2 separate regions of the Homo sapiens genome follow, and region 1 is linked to region 2. The links come from fine-mapping of genetic effects on gene expression. A gene starts in region 2. The other region holds a variant in brackets. All regions are shown on one strand. Distances are between the middles of the regions.

Region 1 (10,266 bases), 26 kb before region 2:
ATACAAAAAATTAGCCGGGCTTGGTGGCGGGCACCTGTAGTCCCAGCTACTCGGGAGGCTGAGGCAGGAGAATGGCATGAACCTAGGAGGCGGAGGTTGCAGTGAGCTGAGATTGCCCTACTGCACTCCAGCCTGGGTGACAGGGTGGGACTCTGTCTCAAAACAAAACAAAACAAAAAACCACATTGTCATGGCTGTAACCCAAGACTCAAAAACTTCATCCTCCATCAGAAGAGCTTCTTGATGCCCAGAGGGCTGGACAATAGGCACTGGGGCCCTGCTGAAGCAAAGACCTTCATCTCATAGCCTTGCCTGTGTGAGCTGAAGTCAAAGCAGGCAGGAGAGCAGCTGCTGCCCCATTTCCACCTTCCAAATCTTCATGAATGCAAAGATTGGCAGAACCCAACTTATATGCAGAACCTGAGCTGCAAAGGATTCTGGGAAATGTAGGACTTGGCTTTTTTGCATCTGAGTTCCCAAGAACAGCAAAGTACGAAAATATCCTCAACATAGGAACAGGAGAGTGGAGGCAGAGCTGGACATGGTGGCACACACATGTAGTCCCAGCTACTTGGGAGGCTGAGGTGGGAGGATTGCTTGAGGCCAGGAGTTCGAGACCAGCCTGGGCAACATGGTGAGATCCTATCTCTTAAAAAAGAGAAAAAGGGTGGAGGCAGTTTGAGAAAGTGGCCGGGACTCTGAAGCCACGTAGAGTTTGAATTACATTAATGAGCCGTGTGACCTTGGGCAAGTAACTTCACCTCTCTGATCTTTGATATCTCACTATGTGAAATGGGCTCATTAAAGAACCTGGGTCATTGTGAGGATCTTGTAAGATCTCATACGTGAAGTACTTCACATACTGGCACAGTAAGCACTCAGTGAATGAGAGCTATTGTTATTGCTAAACGAAACCCACACCTTAAGAAGGTAAAAAAGGAAAAGCAAATAAACCTCAAAGAAAGTAGAAGGGACCGGAATTGGTGGCTCATGCCTGTAATCCCAGCAGTTCGGGAGGCTGAGGCAGGAGGATTGCTTGAGCCCAGGAGTTCAAGACCAGCCTGGACAACATAGACCCTGTCTCTGCCAAAAATAAAAATTAGCTAAGTGTTGTGGCACATGCCTGAGGTTCTAGCTACTTGGGAGGCTGAGGTGAAAGGATCCACTTGAGGCCAGGAGGTCGAGGCTGCAGTGAGCCATGATCACCCCACTGCACTCCAGCCTAGGCATCAGAACAAGACCCCATCTCAAAAAAAGTAGAAGGGAGGAGGCATTAAAGAGAATAAATCAGTGAAGGAGAAAGAAGAGGTACAATAAAGCAACAAAACCTAAAGTTGGTTTTTTGAAAAGATTAATAAAATCAGTCTGGGCGTGGTGGCTCATGCCTGTAATCCCAGCACTTTGGGAGGCTGAGGCGGGTGGATCACTTGAGGTCAGGAGTTTGAGACCAGCCTGGCCAGCATGGTGAAACCCCATCTCTACCAAAAATACAAAAAATTAGCTGGATGTGGTGGTCCACACCTGTAATCCCAGCTACTCGGGAGACTAAGGCAGGTTCACTTGAATCTGGGAGGTGGAGGTTGCAGTGAGCTGAGATCATGCCATTGCACTCCAGCCTGGGCAAAATGAGTGAAACTCTGTCCAAAAAAATAAATAAATAAATAAAATCCAATGGACCCCTGGTAAAAATCAATTAAGGAAAAAAGACAGCAAACATGAATCACCAGTATCCACAATGAAAAGGGGAACTTTGTTCTAACATTAAAAGATAGTAAGATGATATTAGGAACTACTTTGTGCCAATAAATTTAACAGCTTAGATGAAATGGACACATTACTTTAAAAACACACTGTATCAAAACTGACACAAGAAGAAATAGAAAACCTGAACAGTCTTATATTCTTGTTAAAGAAATTGAATTCGTAACTGAAAACCTTCCCTATAAAGAAAATTTTTGGCTTGGATGACTCCCACCAGTGGAATTCTTCCAAACACTTAAAGAAGAAATAACACTAACCTTAGACAAACTTCCAGAGAATAGAAAAAGAGGGCTCTCTTCCTAACATGTTTATGAGGCAGCATAATCCTGATATTCCCTGTGTTCCCAGAGCTCACAGCCCAGTATGGGATGGGGACATATATGAGAACAGACATTGACAGCACAGTGATTGAAGCTGCAGTGGGGAGCCCAGGGGCCTGTGGGAACCCAAAGGAGGAGGCACGTGACTCAGCCTGGGGCCGGGGGTGGTGGTAGATTATGAACTGACACCTGAAAGATATGTAGGAGTGAGTCAGGGGAAAAGGTAGGAGTAATGTTCTAACAGGTGAGACAGCCAGTGCACAGGCTAGTCACAGTGACAGAATGTGGCATGAATAAGTACATTAGCAAACGTTTGGTGTGGCTGGGCTGGACCTCAAGAAGGTGGGCATTGCTGGGAGAAGAGCGGTGGACAAGGATGCCCCCTGGAAACCTTCCCTGCCTCGTTTTCCCTCAGTGCCCCCCTCTTCTCCGGTCTCCAGGGGTCTCCCCTGACTCAGCCTCGGTGGCTGGGATTACTCATGAACCTTTCACATCTTTGGGACCTTTCACCATCTCCTACTCACCCTGGGTTCCCACATGAGCCCCTGACTTATTCATCGATGGGGAGGGCAGAGAAGGGAAGAGGGAGAAGCTCAGGGGCATGTCTTCACCCCCTCACTCCCTTCCTGGCTGTGTCTCCTGCAGAACAACCTCCCTCCTAGCATGATGACCCGCAGAAACACCTACGTTTGCACAGAACGCCCGGGGGCTGAGCGCCCGTCACTGTTGCCAAATGGGAAAGAAAACAGGTACGGAGGGGGCAGCAACAGGGTGAGGGGTGGGAAGTAGGGGGTAGGTGAACAGGACCTCCCTTGATCTGAGATGATAGGCATTGGAGGCTGGTGCCATGGGGACCAGAGAGTGAGTGTATCTGCCCTGCCCTTGGCAGAATCGACCCATGTACCCCCCTGAAAATCCTCCCCACTTAATTAATTAGTCTTAAGCACCAGGAAAGCAGTTGGCCCTGTTCTCCGCCTACAAGCCTTGGGAACCTGAATTGATTTTTTGAATGATCCATTTTTAGAACTCGAGAGAAGCCCCAGAATGTCACAGCTTCAGCGTCATCTGGTTGGCTGGTTTTCCGGCTTGTTGGCCTGAGTCTGTGAGGTCTCTTCCAGCTGGCAAGGGAGGGAAACCAGTTCAGACTGGCTGGAGCAGAGAGAGGGAAGGGATTGGTTCACATCACAGGTCAAGGCCAGCTAGAATGGGGCCAGCTCCAGGATGAGGACACTGCCCCCCACCAGGGCTGTAGGGCAGGTTGATGGCCAACACCAGGGCACACTCTGGGATGCACCTGATTAGTGGGTGCAGGTGTTCCCACTGGGTGTGGGCAGAGGAATGGGGTAGTTAACAGTCACAAATCTGTCCAGGCACAGTGGCTCATGCCTGTAATACCAGCACTTTGGGAGGCTGAGGCAGGTGGATCAAGAAGTCAGGAGATCGAGACCATCCTGGCTAACATGGTGACACCCCGTCTCTACTAAAAATACCAAAAAAAAAAAAAAATTAGCTGGGTGCAGTGGTGGGCACCTGTAGTCCCAGCTACTCTGGAGGCAGAGGCAGGACAATGGCGTGAACCTGGAAGGCGGAGTTTGCAGTGAGCCGAGATCACGCCACTGCACTCCAGCCTGGGCAACAGAGCGAGACTCCATCTCAAAAAAAAAAAGTCACGATTCTGTGAATACTCAGTTCTGAGTTCGAATCTTACCTCTGTGCTCACACTGCTAGCAGAATGACCGGGTAAATCCCTGTGCCTCTGTTTCCTCCTCGGTAAAATGGGCTTGATGCTGGCCGGGCATGGTGGCTCACACCTGTAATCCCAGCACTTTGTGAGGCCGAGGTGGGCAGATCACCTGAGGTCAGGAGTTCGAGACCAGCCTGGCCAACATGATGAAACCCTGTCTCTACTAAAAATACAAAAATTAGCCAGGAACGATGTCATGTGCATGTAATCCCAGCTACTCAGAAGGCTGAATGAGGCAGGAGAATCGCTTGAACCTGGGAGGCAGAGGTTGCAGTGAGCTGGGATTGCGCCACTGTACTCCAGCCTGAGCCACACAGCAAGAATCCGTCTCATAAAAAAAAGGGCTGATGCTGTCCACTTCCAGGCCCCATTATAGAGATGCAGTAGAGATCAGGTGTGTCCTGTACCTGGCACTGGGTCTGATGCTTAGGAGGCCTTCATTCAGTGACTTGAGAGTGCTTTTTTTTGGTGGTTATCAAATAACAATAGTGAACATTCATGAAGCAGCAGCTACATGCCAGGCTTCTATGTCTATTGCCTGGCTCAGTGCCCCTAACAACTCTGTGAGGTAGATCCTAATATCTCCATTTTACAGCTGAGGACATAAGGCACAGAGAGGTTAAGTAACTTATCCAAGGCCACACAGCTGGTAAGTCAAGAAGCAGATTCCAGACTTGACTCCAGAATCTTATTTGTAATCACTGTAGTACATGGCCTTCCAGTTCTGCTCAAGAGATAGTGGAACAGTTAAATTACAGACTCAGACAAAAAAAATCAAAAATTAAAAAAAAATTTAAAAACAACAAAAAATAAAAAGTATAGACTCAGCTAGCTGCTGTAATAAAAACAAAGAGATCCCAGGGTAGAGTAATTTAAATAAAAAGGACGTTTAGTCCGGAGGGTCCTCCAAGGACCCAGGTAAGTTCTTCCAGCCCCAAAATGAGTTTCCAGCTCTGGGACTGAGGCCGCTGCACCAGCAGCCATCATTTCCCAATCAGGAAGAAGTGGGGAAAGAGTAGGGGACAAGCAACAACTCTTTGTAAAGGCGTCACCCAGAGATGGTACAGAGCACTTCTGCTTATATCCCATTGGCCGGAGCATGGTCACATAACCATCTCTAGCTGCAAGAGAGTCTGGGAAATGTAGTCTCTGGCTGGGTGGCCATGTGCAGTGCTCATACTCTTAGGGGTTTGGTTACCAAGAACGAAACAGGGAGGATGGATTCTAAGGGAGAAGTAACAGCCTCTGCCACAATCAGGATTCTTCTCT[G/C]AGATCCAGGCTGGGCCTGGAGTCCCTGGGAGGATAGAAATTGGAGGTCTGGGCTGGGCGCAGTGGCTCACACCTGGAATCCCAGCACTTTGGGAGGCCAAGGCCAGTGGATCACCTGAGGTGAGGAGTTTGAGACCAGCCTGGCCAACATGGTGAAACCCCATCTCTCCTGAAAATACATAAACTACCCAGGCGTGGTGCTGCATGCCTATAGTCCCAGCTACTCAGGAGGCTGAGGCAGGAGAATCACTTGAACCCAGGAGGCAGAGGTTGCAGTAGCCAAGATTGCCCCATGGCCCTTCAGCCTAGGTGACAGAGTGAGACTCTGTCTCAAAAAAAAAAAAAAAAAAAATTAGCCAGGCATGGTGGCACACGCTTGTAATCCCAGCTACTCAGGAGGGTGAGGCAGGAGAATTGAACTCAGGAGATGGAGGTCTGGCCCCTGCTGTCGACTAGGAGGGTCCGAGGGGCTGGAGGAGGGTCCTGGGACAGTGGAACCCCCACTGCCCAGATTACCATAGTGAATACAGGTATCCTTGACCTTTACATCTATCCCTTTCCTGATTTTAGATGGTGAGAGTTCAGATAGCAAAGTGTTTGCCAAGTTGATTTGGTTCCTGAGGTTTCGGCAAATAGCAAGGAAGTCACCCAAAAATGTCTGTGCATCTATTCAGTTGCTGCGTTTAGAGAGAGGAGAGTTGTGATAGGAGATGATTTGGAGCGGGTAGAGTTTGAAGAAGGGACAGTTTGAAGGAGGGGTAATAGGAGAGGAGAGAGTCAGTAAAATAATGCTAGGATTGTATAGTGCACAGCCTGCACAACTGTACGTTGCAGCCCTGTCTCTGAGTTCCAGGCTGGTTGCAGTCCCTGGTCTCAGGACAGGAATGTGAAGAATCAAAGGGACTGGGGCCCTGGCCTGCCTCAGTCCCCCACCCTGACTTGTCTGTCTCTGCCCACAGCTCAGGCACCCCACGGGTGCCCCCTGCCTCCCCCTCCAGTCACAGCCTGGCACCCCCATCAGGGGAGCGGAGCCGCCTGGCACGTGGTTCCACCATCCGCAGCACCTTCCATGGTGGCCAGGTCCGGGACCGGCGGGCAGGGGGTGGGGGTGGTGGGGGTGTGCAGAATGGGCCCCCTGCCTCTCCCACACTGGCCCATGAGGCTGCACCCCTGCCCGCCGGGCGGCCCCGCCCCACCACCAACCTCTTCACCAAGCTGACCTCCAAACTGACCCGAAGGTGAGCTCCGCGGGGATGGCAGGGGCAGGGCGGGGCGGGGGGCCGATGGGACCTAACCTGTCTTCCACTCTGCTCTGTCTCCTGTACCCCAACATTTCCTCTTCCTCCTCCTCCTCCTCCTCGTTTCCTCCTCCTCCTCCTCCTTTCCTCCTCCCCTGTCACCCCTCACCTCCCTCCTCACACTGCAGGGTTACCCTCGATCCCTCTAAACGGCAGAACTCTAACCGCTGTGTTTCGGGCGCCTCTCTGCCCCAGGGATCCAAGATCAGTAAGTCCCGTCCATGCCCTGTTCTCGCTGGCTCTGCCTCCCTGCCTGCATGTCTGACCTGTGTGTGCGGGCATTGGGAGGGGGCTCTGTGGATGTGAGGGTCTGTGCGTGGGGTCTGGTTGTTCATTTACTCACAGAAGCACAGCCTATGGAGCCAGACTCGGGGGTTCAAATGGCAGCTCTGCCAAGTGACCTTGAGCAAGTCACTCAAGGTCTCTGGGCCTGGTTTTCCTCTTCTGTAAAATGGGTATAGTAATAACAATACCTGTCTCCTAGGGTTATTGTGAGGACTAAATGAAGTGACGTATGGACTGAGCGTAGAACATTGCCTTGGAAAGTGCTTTACATGTGTATTAGTTATTAATTGCTATTATTCATTGAGCCCCTACTGTGTGCCTGGCACTGTCCTAGGCCCTGTAGTAGAGGGTGAGCAAAATGTACAAAACTCCTGCCCTGGCAGACCCAACATTCTACTAAGGGATCTAGACAAAAAACAAAGAAATAAGTAAAATATACTTACTATATAGACTGCTAGGTAGTGCGAAGTAACTAAGAAGAAAAATAGAGTAGGAGCCAAATTTGGTGGCTTATGCTTGTAATCACAGCACTTTGGGAGGCTGAGGCGAGGGGATCACTTGAGCCCAGAAGTTCAAGACCAGCCTGGACAACGTAGCAAGATCCTATCTCTACAAAAAAGTAAATAAATTGGCCGGGCGTGGTGACTGCACCTGTATTCCCATGGAATTGGGAGGCCGAGGCAGGAGGATCACTTGAACGCAGGAGGTCAAGGCTGCTGTGAGCTATGATCATCAGTCTTGGCAACAGAGGGAGAACCTGTCTCTAAAAAAAAAAAAAAAAAAAAAAAAAATTGAACAGGGAGGGGAATAAGGGGTGTGGGGAAGGGATGGGGTGCAGCATTAAATGGGCAGGCCTCTGGATGAGGTGGCTCAGGCCAGCAATCCCAGCACTTTGGACAGATGACTTGAGTCCAGGAGTTTGAGACCAGCCTGGGCAATGTGGCAAAGCCCCATCTCTACAAAACAAAACAAAAAACAAAAAGCAGATGTGGCACGCGCCTGTAGTCCCAGCTACTTCAGGGGCCAAGGCAGGAAGATTGCTTGAGCCTGGGAGGTTGAGGCTGCAGCGAGCTGAGATCACGCCACTCCTGCATGACAGAGTGAGACTCTGTCTCAAAAAAAGAAAAAAGGGCAGGCCTCACGAAGGAGGTGTTGTTTGAGCAAAGCATGAATGTATATGTGAGCGAGGGAGTGTGTGTGTGTGCACACGTGCGTGTGTCTCTCTCTTTCTCTCTGTGGCCACTTATCTATGTAAGGGTGTGTCTCTGCCCACTCCCCTCCCTTTCATCTTCCACATTCTTCAGTATCTTTCCTGTGACCTGCACTAACCATTTCAGAATGAGCCCCGTTATGGGGATGGACAAGGAGATCAAATCCTGACTCCAGGCCCTCACCAGCCCGGAGGGACTGGGGTTGAGGCAGGGGCTGCTTGGAGTCCCAGAGGCAGTGGGTTGCGGGAGGTGGGTTCCCTATGTCCAGATTAGACACTCTGTCCCCCTCCCCTCCCCTAGGGTCGCAGACGAACCTGAGAGAATCGGGGGACCTGAGGTCACAAGGTGAGTGCTTGGGCCTACCCCTGACTGCCACTTCCCCTCTCCTGCCTCAGCACCTCCCGACACTTACCCCAGGGCATTAGATGGGGCCCCAGTCTCATCCTGCAAGGCCAACTTCCTGAAATGCCCTGTGGCCCCAGCCTTCTCTGCCAGCTCCTCTCATTCCCACCCAACCCCAAGCACCTTCCCTTGATCATCTTAAACTTCAGCCTCCGGCTGGGTGCCATGGCCCAAGCCTGTAATCCCAGCACTTTGGGAGTCCAAGGGAGGCAGATCACCTGAGGTCGGGAGTTTGAGACCAGCCTAAGATGGAGAAACCCCGTCGTTACTAAAAATACAAAAATTAGCCGGGCGTAGTGGCGCATGCCTGTAATCCCAACTACTCGGGAGGCTGAGGCAGGAGAATCGCTTGAACCCGGGAGGCAGAGGTTGCGGTGAGCTGGATTGTGCCATCGCACTCCAGCCTGGGTAGCAAGAGTGAAACTCCGTCTGAAAAAAAAAAAAAAAAAAAAAAAAAAGCCTCATCCCATCCACAACTCAACTCCTCTTCTGGTCAATGCCCCCACCTCCTTTTGCCTCTCATCCAGTCATGGCACAATGTTTGCTGGCAGCTCAGGGCCAGCAGGAGGCAAACATCTGTACGGACCCAGATCATGAAGATTTTAGGCTTTGAGGGCCAGGCACCCTGTGTCACGCCTGTTCAGTTGTGCCATTGTAGTGCAAAAGCAGTCATATTCAACACAAAACAAATGGGTATGGCAGTGTTCCAATGAAACTTTATTTACAAAAGCAGACAGCACTGGAGTTTGCCAAGCCCTGGTTTTGTCTGAGTTCCCGGTTTAGAGACCCAAGTGGAAACCGGAGCCTTCCCAGCAGCTGCAACAAACTGCCAGGGCTGACTCTCATTGGTTGGGACTTGGTCACATGCTCATTCCTAAACCAATGCCTGCAGCCAGAGAGGAGAAGTACTCTGGTTGGTCAGACCTGGTCATGTGGTCACCCTTGACCCAAGCACAGTGGCCGGGAAGTAGAATGCTATCATTGGCAGAGCTGAGTCGTGCTCACCCAAGCTGAGGGGCGGCCCCACCGGAACAAGGGAGGCTAGTCCTGGGATGCTCATGTAGAGCAGCACTCTCGTACTTCAGGCGGGACGTTTCTTTGTTGTGCAGGGCCCTCTTGCACATTGGAGAATGTTTTTCATTCCTGACCTACCCCATCCCCAACCTAGTCAGTGCCAGCAGTGCTCCCATCCTAAGACATGTGACAATCAAAAAGCCCCCAGAGGCCGAGCACAGTGGCTTATGCCTGTAATTCCAACAACTCAGGAGGCCAAGGCAGGAGGATCACTTGAGCCCAGGAGGTCGAGGCTGCAGTGAGCTGTGATTGCACTACTGCATTGCAAGACCCTGTCTCAAAAAAACTAAGAAGTGGCCGGGCACTGTGGCTCTCGCCTGTAATCCCAGCACTTTGGGAGGCCAAGGCAGGTGGATCACCTGAGGCCGGGAGTTTAAGACCTGCCTGCCCAACATGGTGAGACTCCGTCTCTACTAAAAATACAAAAATTAGCTGGCCGTGGTGCCTGTTCTCCCAGCTACTTGGGAAGCTGAGGCAGGAGAATTGCTTGAACCCGGGAAGCAGAGGTTGCAGTGGGCCAAGATTGTGTCATTGCCTTCCAGCCTGGGCGACAAGAGCGAAACTCTGTCTCAAAAAAAAAAAAAAAAAAAAAAGCCGGGCGCAGTGGCTCACACCTGTAATCCCAGCACTTTGGGAGGTCGAGGCGGGCAGATCACAAGGTCAGGAGATCGAGACCATCCTGGCTGACACGGTGAAACCGTGTCTCTACTAAAAATACAAAAATTAGCTGGGGCCAGGCGTGGTGGCGCGTGCCTGTAATCCCAACTACTCAGGAGGCTATGGCAGGAGAATCGCTTCAACCCAGGAGGCGGAGGTTGTGGTGAGCCGAGATCGTTCCATTGCACTCCAGCCTGGGTAACAAGAGCAAAACTCCGTCTCAAAAAAAAAAAAAAAAAGAAAAG
Region 2 (10,266 bases):
TGTGTGTCGGGATGGGGGCGGGTACATTCAATACCTCTGGGTGGGAATTGAGAATCATAAGGGTTGGGCACAGTGGCTCATGCCTGCAATCCCAGCACTTTGGGAGGGTGAGGCGGGTGAATCTCTTGAGGTCAGGAGTGTGAGACCAGCCTGGCCAACAGGGTGAAACCCCATCTCTGCTAAAAATACAAAAATTAGCTGGGTGTGGGGCACACACCTGTAATCCCAGCTACTCAGGAGGCTGAGGCATGAGAATTGCTTGAACCAAGGGAGTGGAGGTTGCAGTGAGCCAAGATCACACCACTGCACTCCAGCCTGGGTGACAGAGCAAGACTCTGTCTCCAAAGGAAAAAAAAAAAAAGAGAGAACACTGAGGACTGGTGGGAACTGGGAGGGAAGGCTGGGAGAGGTCAAGGTGGCTGGGAGGGGTCAAGGTGGGAGAGAAGAAAGAGTGCTGGGGGCGGGGTCAAAGGAGAAAGGGGAGCTTCAGAGGGTACATGGTGCTAAAAGCATCAGCACCTCGGAAACATTAGCACCCAAAGTCATGACATCTTAGCCTGAAATGTTAGGATCTCAGGCTACCACCGTACCACAGAGGGTCAGGAGGGTAAGAGACTTGAAAGACCCTCTTGTTTCCCAGTGGAAAAACAGGGGCCAGGAGAGAGGGGCTTCTCCCCGGCATCACACAGTGAGCTGGATGTGAGGGGCACTAGAGCCTCCCCTCCACTCCCAGCTCTCTTCGCCTTGCAATGTCCTTTGAGAAACAACCATAACATTAATAACATCCCCTGTCAGATTCTTTTTTTTTTTTTTTGAGACAGGGTCTCACTCTGTGGCTGGAGTACAGTGGCGCGATCTCGGCTTACTGCAACCTGCACCTCCCAGGCTCAAGCGATCCTCCCACCGCAGCCTCCTGAGTAGCTTGGACCACAAGCCCTCATCACCACACTTGGCTAATTTTTTTGTATTTTTTGTAGAGACAGGGTCTTGCTATGTTGCTCAGGCTGGTCTCAAACTCCTGGCCTCAAGTGATCCTCCCACCTGGGCCTCCCAAAGTGCTGGGATTACAGGCATGAGCCACTGCACCTGGCCCCCCTGTCAGAGCTTGAGCACTCACTTGGTGCCAGGTGCCACTCTAAGCACTGCACAGCCATTGACTTGTGTTTTCACAACGTGGGCGCCCATTTTTCAGATGAGGAGACTGAGGTTCAGGAGGTGAACCGACCTCCTTGGGGATCTCACATTATTCTCGTGCATGTTTATTGCGTGGTTTGCTGAGTACCTCGCACTGTCCCAAGCCTTTATGTATATTAATGCATTGATTCCCACAACAGCCCCATTTTACAGATGAGAAAACTGAGGCCCCCCCCCCTTCAAGGGTGGTGGGATTGGGGCATGGCCGGCAGCCTCCAGAGCCCCCATGTAGCCCCTTCAGTGCTCCACTGGGGAGGCTCACCTGGGTTGTCCACTCCTGTCTGGATGACATCGTCTACAGTGAAGCCAGATGGAGTCTCCTTGTCCCGCAGCTTCTTGTAGAGTTCAAGGGTCAGTACCTTGGCCATGTGGTTGTTATGTTTGCTGAGGTCGGGGTACTCCTCCTCAGGCTTGTAATTCAGCTTGAACTTGTTGTGGGTGTTACCGAATGGCATGGTGGCGGTGTAGGAGACCTGATGGGCAGGGCAGGAGGGGAAGATTGAAGATTAGCTGGCATCTTTTTTCTTCTTCTTCTTCTTTTTTTTTTTTTGAGACGGAGTCTCGCTCTGTCACCCAGGCTGGAGTGCAGTGGCACGATCTCGGCTCACTGCAAGCTCCACCTCCTGGGTTCACACCATTCTCCCGCCTCAGCCTCCCGAGTAGCTGGGAATACAGGCGCCCGCCACCACGCCGGCTCATTTTTTGTATTTTTAGTAGAGACGGGGTTTCACCATGTTAGCCAGGATAGTCTTGATCTCCTGACCTTGTGATCCGCCCGCCTCGGCCTCCCAAAGTGCTGGGATTACAGGCGTGAGCCACTGCACCCGGCCTTTTCTTCTTTTTTTTGAGATGGAGTCTCACTCTGTTACCCAGGTTGGAGTGCAGTGGCGAGACCTCGGCTCACTGCAGCCTCCACCTCCCAGGTTCAAGAGATTCTCCTGTCTCAGCCTCCTGAGTAGCTGGGATTACAGGCGCACACCACCATGCCTGGCTAATTTTTTTGTATTTTTATTAGAGATGGGGTTTCACCATCTCTACTGGTTGGCCAGGCTGGTCTCGAACTCCTGGCCTCAAGTGATCCACCCGCCTCGGCCTCCCAAAGTGCTGGGATTACAGGCGTGAGCCACTGTGCCCCGCCTAGCTCGCATCTTGCAGACAGCAGCAAGAGAACTGGGCAAGGCGTTGGGGTCAGGCAGGCTGTGTAACTTGGAGCAAGAGAAATCCTCTCTCTGAGCCCCTGTGTCTCAGCAGGAAGGCATCCGGAGTCTTAGATCAAGGGCCTGGCTCTGCCGTATCCCAGTTGGGTGAGCCTGGACTAGTCATTCTTGCTGGAAACTCAATTTCCCCAGGTGGAAAACGGGCCCCTCCCGGAGGCTGGAAAAATATTTTGTGTGGGTAAGAGTGTAGGTTCTGGAATCAGCCCAGGGTTTGATTCCCAGCTCTGCTACCTACAACCAGCTGTGTGGCCAGGGGCAAGTTGCTTAACCTCTGTGCCTCAATTTACTCATCTAGAAAATGAGGATCCTAACAGCACTTGCCGCATGGGAGTGTTGAAAAGATTAAATGTGTGAATACAGGTGTAGCTCTCGGAACAGTGCCTGGTACACAATAAGCATTATTTCACTTAGCTGCTATTATTATTATTATTATTATTATGTTTGAGACAGAGTCTCGCTCTGTCGCCCAGGCTAGAGTGCAGTGGCATAATCTCAGTTCACTGCAACCTCCACCTCCCAGGTTCAAGCAACTATCCTGCTTCAGCCTCCTGAGTAGCTGCAACTACAGGCGTGTGCCACACCTGGCTATTTTTTTTTTTGGTATTTTTAGTAGAGTTGGGGTTTCGCCATGTTGGCCAGGCTGGTCTTGAACTCCTGAACTCAAGTGATCCGCCCACCTCTGCCTCCCAAAGTGCTGAGATTACAGGCATGAGTCACGGCACCTGGCCTGTTGTTGTTATTTTAAAGGTTCGTGCGAGGAGCTGGTGAGAAGGTGGAGGTGAGGGTGCTGCTGGGAGTATGTGAGCAGGTTCTTGGATTATCAATCCAAAGACAAAGGGCTGGGTCGGGGGAGGGCTGGGTAGCTGCCCCCACCTCTGCCTGCTGACAGTTCTCCCACAGGGCTCAGAAGGGAAGAAAAGCTCAGCCTCTGGGTCGTCAGAGGCAGGTTCAAATCCCACCTATGCCATTTCCCTGCTGTGTGACCCCAGGCCAGTCACTAGGCCTCTCTGGACCTCTGTCTCCTGTGAACTGAGCCTGCCCCGTAGGATTGCCAGGATCCTCTGAGCTTGGCCATGAGGTTGGCTGAGCACAGGCCCTGGCATGGAGTTGGAGCCTGGAACCCTGGTGGCTGCTATTATTGTTATTTGTTATTACTACTTTTTTGCAGAGATGGGGTCTCACTATGTTGCCCAGGCTGGTCTGGGACTCCTGGCCTCAAGTGATCCTCCAGCATCGGCCTCCCAAGATGCTGGGATTATGCGTGTGAGCCACTGCGCCAGGTCCTACTGTTATTATTATTTTATTCACTGGACCCAGAAAGGAGAAGGGACCCAGAAAGGAGAAGGGGCCTCCAGCAGCGGTGGGAGACGGGGATGGGAAGCAGGTGGGATTGTGGGAGGGAGATTGGGACCACGGTGAGCTGAAGCCAGGGAAGAGGAACAGGGACCCGCCAAAGACCTTGGGTGCTGCTGTCCAGGGTGGTTATTTTTAGAATCTGGCAACTGCCTGCCATCCCACCCCCAGCTGCTGCCCCGCCCCACCCCCACATTCCGGGGCTCGGCTTGCACCAAGTCAGCAGGCCCAAGACAGGTGGGCCAGGGTGGCTGGGAGGACACGGGTCCAGGCCTCGGGGCTCAAGGACATCCTGGGATGGCAGCCCAGACCCCCTCCCTTCAGAGGATGCCCCCCTAATCCCTGCCAGGGACACCCCAGGAGAGGGCACTGAGGCAGGGTGGTGACCCCCCCCACAAGAGACATAAGCAGAAAGCCCCAGAGCCACACACCCCCACCACCGCAGACTCCCCAGATCACACTGTAAACTAAGTCACACAGTCACACTTCCAAACTCAAGGACATGCCCAGGACACTCATGTGTCCGCTACTAAGTCAGAAACAAGGTCACAGGGACCCACACAGTAGCAAACGCAAAGAAAGCCTGCGACACCTGCTCTTGCAGACTCTGCTAGGCGACAGACACACCTCCCACGGCTTGTGGCGCCAGTGTTGGCGACAAACTGTAATGAACACAGGCCTGGCTCAACAGCCCCTTGCAGGGGGTGACAGTTGGCAGCTGTCAGGACCCCTTTCATCTCGGATCCCTCCCCATAACCCAAGACTTGTGCCGCAGAAATCACAGGTCCCAGTGGGGGGTTCAGGCAGCCTCACAGATGGAGGGGCCTCCCAGACACACAAGGGTCAACCTTCCCACGCACCGACCTGCCTTTGTATAGGAGGATGTTGGTGGAGCAAGGGGTGACACACAGACCCTTTCCCAAGCCAAGCCTCTAGCACCCACAGAAATCCCCTACTCTGGCCCCCACCCAGATTCCCGCCCCGTGCAGTACCTGGCTGGGCTGGGCTGAAGGGGGGCTGTCTGTATCCTGGAGGTGACACTGACCCAAAGGAAGGGCCAGCAGCCGTGGCCTTATATAGGGGGACCTAGGCTGTGCTATTGGCTGGGAGGGGTTGTCCCCAGGGAGGAGTTCTGGAGGGCAGCTGAGCCTCTCACCTCCCTGCTCCCGCACCATACCCACCCTGAACCCAGGCATGCTTTGCGCCCAGCCCCATGGCCTTGTATGGGCTGAGCCGCCCCAGGGGCTGGGCTCACGCCCCCCCACCAAGCTGATACCCTGACCAAGTGCTGAGTTGGGCTGGCGGTGGGGACAGCTGGCCCCCCGCCGGGAACATGGGACGGTGGCTGGGAACGTCCCAAGCACGTAGAAGCCACCGTCCCCTGGCCCCTGAGTCTCCTTCAGCCACCAGCCCTTCCTGTGGCCCTCGGCTCCCCCTGTGCCCCCTGGGCCCTCACCCCTACCCGAGTCCCAGCGGCACCTCGGGGAACCAAGGTGTGGCTCCAGGAGGAGCAGATACCCTGTGAGCTGGAGGAAGCAGAGGCCGGGAGAAGGACCAATTGCAATGGAGGGCAGTCTAACCCCAGAAACCCGCGCTTGGGCGCCCCTTCCTCCTAGGGACTGAGTGGAGGGGAAACTGAGGCTGGCTGAGTTGGAGAGATTCAAACTCAGGGCAAGGGTGGGAGGCGGTGGTCACCCTCCCCCCCACTTAACCCTCGCCCCCTCGGTGCCACTGGGAGATTTCCGCTGTGCGGGGGACAGGGAGGGTCTCGGTCGCCGGGAAAGGAGTTATTTTTAGAGGGCGCTTTGCTGTCTCCTCTGCCGCAAAGGCCGAGACCCGAGGCGCTGGGTATGGGGGGGTTCGGGGGCAGGTGTTGGAGGGGGGTTCGCCACGTGTCCTGGTTAATTATAACCGGGCGTCTCGGGTGTCCTCGGGCCTCGCCTCCTTACAAGGGCAGCCACGGGGCCCTGGGTGGCCGCTCCCACCTCCCGGGGAAGGGGGCTGGGCAGCGACGCCGTTCAGAGCGCGGGCGCCAGACTCGCGCAGATCTGGGCAGAGCAAGCGCTCTCGGCGCCTCGGCTGTGAGCAAGGACTTCCAGGGCTGAGAGGGGGGTTCTGTGGAGGAGAGTACAGTATAGAGGAAGCCGCTTTCTCCTCCTGGGACGCGCCAGGATTGCAGGCTGATCGGGTCTCCTCCTCCAGGGAGCTCCCAGGATTGCGACGAAGAAAAGAATGTCCCTTCCCTCTGAGTTCCTCCCTATCCCAGGGTCTCCTGGGTCTCCTTCACATCTTCTTAGGCAGGTGAGGACTGGCTTAGAGAAAGGGAGCCTCTGTGCCTCTCCCTCAGACTCCTGATCTGAGGGGGGAGGGGAGAGGGGTGCTTTAGAAATATTTACATGGGGCCCAGCCCTTTCCCAGCAAGCTCAGATTGCCGAGGGTCTCCTTCACGGTTACGGAAACTGAGGCCCAGAAAACCAAATGGAACTGGTCTCGAAACAGGGATCTATCAGGCACTTCCTGAGGCTACAACAAAACACAAAACCCCCGCCGTCCTGGAGGTGATAGTGCAAGAGGGTCACAGATGAGGGGACGGCACAGCAGCAGGGGAGGTCGAGGCAGGCCTCTTTGGGAAGATGACATCTGAGCAGAGACCTGAAGGAGAACAGGGAGCCAGCCATGTGCGGCTCTGGGGGGAACAGCAGGTGCAAAGGCGCTGAGGTGAGAATGGCTGGGCACATCTGAGGACAGACAGGAAGGAGGCCAGGGGACTGGAGCAGATGGGGCCAAGGAGAGAGTGGGAGGAAGAAGATGAGGTTGGAGGGGAGACAGGAGCAGACCCATGGTGCCCTAGGGGCTGTGGGAGGAGTTTTAATCCCATTGTGATTGACAGTGAAAATGTTAGATGGGCCGGGCACAGTGGCTCAGGCCCGTAATCCCAGCACTTTGGGAGGCAGAGGCGGAGGCGGGTGGATCACTTGAGGCCAGGAGTTCAAGACCAGCCTGGCCAACATGGTGAAACCCCATCTCTACTAAAAGTACAAAAATTAGCCTGGCATGGTGACACACGCCTGTAATCCCAGCTAGCCAGGAGGCTGAGGCATAAGAATTGCTTGAACCTAGGAGGTGGAGGTTGCAGTGAGCTGAGATGGCACCATTGCCCTCCAGCCTGAGTGACAGAGCAAGACTCAGTCTCACAAAAAAAAAAAAAAAGAAAAGAAAAGAAAAAGAAAATGTTAAATGAACCAGGTATAGAAAGACAAACATCACAAGTTATTTGTGGGATCTAAAAATCAAAACAAGGAGGCTGAGGCAGGAGGATTGCTTGAACCCAGGCAGTCGAGGCTGCAGTGAGCTGTGATCGAGCCACTGCTGCACTCCATCCTGGGCAAGAGAGTGAGACCCTGTCTCACACACACAAAAATTAATTAAAATAACTAAAGGAGTATAATTGGATTGTTTGTAATATAAAGGATAAATGCTTGAGAAGATGGATACCCCATTCTCCACGATGTGATTATTACAAGTTGCATGCCTGTATCAAAACATTTCATGGCCGGGTGCAGTGGCTCACGCCTGTAATCCCAGCACTTTGGGAGGCCGAGGTGGGCAGATCACCTGAGGTCGGGAGTTCAAGACCAGCCTGATCAACGTGGAGAAACCCTGTCTCTACTAAAAATACAAAATTAGCCGGGGTGGTGGCACATGCCTGTAATCCCAGCTACTCGGTAGGCTGAGGCAGGAGAATCGCTTGAACTCGGGAGGCAGAGGTTTCTGCGGGCCGAAATCGCGCCATTGCACTCTAGCCTGGGCAAAAAGAGTGAAACTCCATCTCAAAAAAAAAAAAAAAAAAAAGAACAAAACGTTTCATATACCCCATAAATATACACACCTACTAAATACCTACAAAAAATTTTTTAGAATAATTTTTTAAAATATTAAATGGAAAAAATCATCATCATCATCCCACTGTGAGACTGACAGGAGGCACTGAGGGTCATAAGCAGGGAAGAGGCTGGATCCATGCCACACGCATTTTGGGTGGCACGGTCCAGCCACACCTTGTGGGAGGGTTTGTTTTTTTTTTTTTTTTTTTGAGATGGAGTCTTGCTCTATCACCAGGCAGGAGTGCAATGGTGCGATGTCAGCTCACTGCAACCTCCGCCTCCCAGGTTCAAGCGATTCTCCTGCCTCAGCCTCCCGAGTAGCTGGGACTACAGGCATGGGCCACCACGCTCTGCTAACTTTTATATTTTTAGTAGAGAAGGGGTTTTGCCATGTTGGCCAGGCTAGTCTCAGACTCCTACCTCAGGTGATCCACCCACCTCGGCCTCCCAGAGTGCTGGGATTACAGGCGTGAGGCACCCTGCCGGGCCCATTGCACATTCTTTTTAGCCACACAGTGCCAGAAGCCTTTTCTATGTTCGGGGATTCCCCACTGTAAGCCCTCCTCCTTTGGAGAAGCCAAAGATGCCAGAAACTCAATTTCCCAGAATCCCTTGCAGCAATGGTCCAGGCCAGTGACCTGGGCTGAGCCAATCAAACGCTCCAGCAGGACCTTGTGCCGTGAGCTCCCTCTGCTTTGAGTCTTAAAGAAACAGTTGGCCTTGGGGAGCTTTACAACCCTCATCACGTATCTTCATCCCACCCCCCAGAGCCCGACTGTCAATCCGACCTCTGCCCCTCCACTGCCCACTCTAGCTCAAGACCGCCTCCACTGTCCCTCCTGACCCAACTTCCTCCCTGGACTCCTGTCCCAGTCTTTGCCATTCCCACCTAAACCCTACCTGCTGACCTCCCCTCCTCAGAGCTTGCCATGGCTCCCCAGTGCCCTCAAGGTAAATGAGTATTTGTTGACTAAATAAATAATAGTAACTGTATCTGGCAGATGTAGGCGAGAGTAACCACTACCCAGCTTAAATAGAAAGGACTCTGCTATTGGCTGGGCGCAGTGGCTCACGCCTGTAATCCCAGCACTTTGAGAGGCCGAGGCGGGCGGATCACGAGGTTAGGAGATCGAGACTATCCTGGCTAACACGGTGAAACCCTGTCTCTACTACAAAAATATACAAAAAAAAAAAAATTAGCCGTGCGTGGTGGCAGGCGCATGTCGTCCCAGCTACTCCGGGGCCTGAGGCAGGAGAATGGTGTGAACCCGGGAGGCGGAGTTGCAGTGAGCCGAGATCGCACCACTGCACTTCAGCCTGGGCGACAGAGCGAGACTCCATCTCAAAAAAAAAAAAAAAAAAAAGGACTGTACTATCATGTATTAGGCACTGACAAAATCGTTGGAAGGGCTGAAGGAACACTGCTCGGGCCCCAGAACTACTTTCCTACTTTCCCTCTGGAAAATCTAGTCTTTAGCTTTCCAGCCTCTTCATTGACAGGAGAATGTGCTCGAAGGAGGTTAACATGGACATTAAACAGCCACTCCACAAAGAAGCTTTTGTTTGTTTGTTTGTTTGTTTAGACATGGGTTCTTGATGGGGTCTCGCTATGTTGCTCAGGCTGGAGCACAGTAGTTATTCACAGGCACAATCAGAGTGCACTGCAGCCTCCAATTCCAAGCCTCAAGCAATCCTCCCGCTTCAGCCTCCCGAGTAGCTGGGACTACAGGCGCGCACCACCACTCCAGGCCCTGACAGTTAACTTTTATTGAATACACCTGTATGTCAAGTACTGTGCTAAGTGCTTTACATATGTTGACTTATTTAACGTCCCCAACAATAAGGCTCAGAGAGGTTAAGTGACTTGCCCAAAGTCACACAGCTGGAAGGGGGCAGAACTGGGAATCAAACAGGTACAAGGCTGCCAAGAATGGATTCAGGCTTTGGTGGAAATAACTTCCAGGCTTCTCCCCGACGTCAGACTGTATTGTCAGCCTCTTTCTAGGTCATCAGGCTCTAGTGTACCCACTTCCCCAACCCATCTCCCATCACCCCAGCCATCTGACTTCAGGGTCCAAGGACTTTAATGGGTATTCACTAGTTTAATTTTCCAACAGTCCTATGAAGTGAGTACTGCCAATTTTTTTTTAATTTACTTTTCTTCTGGGAGTCTAGAAGGTACTGCCGTTTTTACAAATCAGGAAAGTAAGGCTGGCCCAGAGAGGTTGCAACACTTATCGAAAGTCACACAGCAGGGAAGTAGCAGAACAAGACTGGACTAGGCTGTCAGTCCTGGAGCTTGTCTTCCTAATCTCTTCCTGATCCCCACTTCTTCATGTCGAACCCCCTTTTCACAGAGGACGAACGCTGGGGCCGAAAAGGGCAAGGGAGTTACCTAAGGTCACAGCCAGTATAACTGGAATTACAGTCTACACTCTTCTCCCTCCATTCCCAAGGCAGCCCTGCCCTCAAACCCTGTCTTACTCTTAAGCATCTCATCTGTCTCTGTCCCTACCCTCAGGAAGAGGCTGCCACCTCCAGGAGAGACTCTGGGAGGGCAGCACTCCACCCCCATGGCCCACCACCCTGTAATGCCCTCCCCCATGCACTCCTCAAAT

The links.
Region 1: its variant is fine-mapped to the expression of CKM in whole blood (TOPMed, PIP above 0.99).

The regions. Positions count from the first base shown.
Region 1 is chr19:45,291,623-45,301,888 of GRCh38, forward strand. It overlaps MARK4 (microtubule affinity regulating kinase 4), which reads left to right. Exons shown (of 17, transcript NM_001199867.2): 14 at 2,727-2,830; 15 at 6,054-6,332; 16 at 8,189-8,233. Among named protein-coding and RNA genes, the nearest start is that of CKM, 26 kb to the right of the region's middle. RefSeq lists a silencer at 12-214. The variant G/C (reference allele first, on the strand shown) is at 5,095.
Region 2 is chr19:45,318,065-45,328,330 of GRCh38, forward strand. It overlaps CKM (creatine kinase, M-type), which reads right to left and starts at 4,811. Exons shown (of 8, transcript NM_001824.5): 1 at 4,757-4,811; 2 at 1,457-1,667. The coding sequence starts at 1,649. RefSeq lists an enhancer at 5,535-5,777.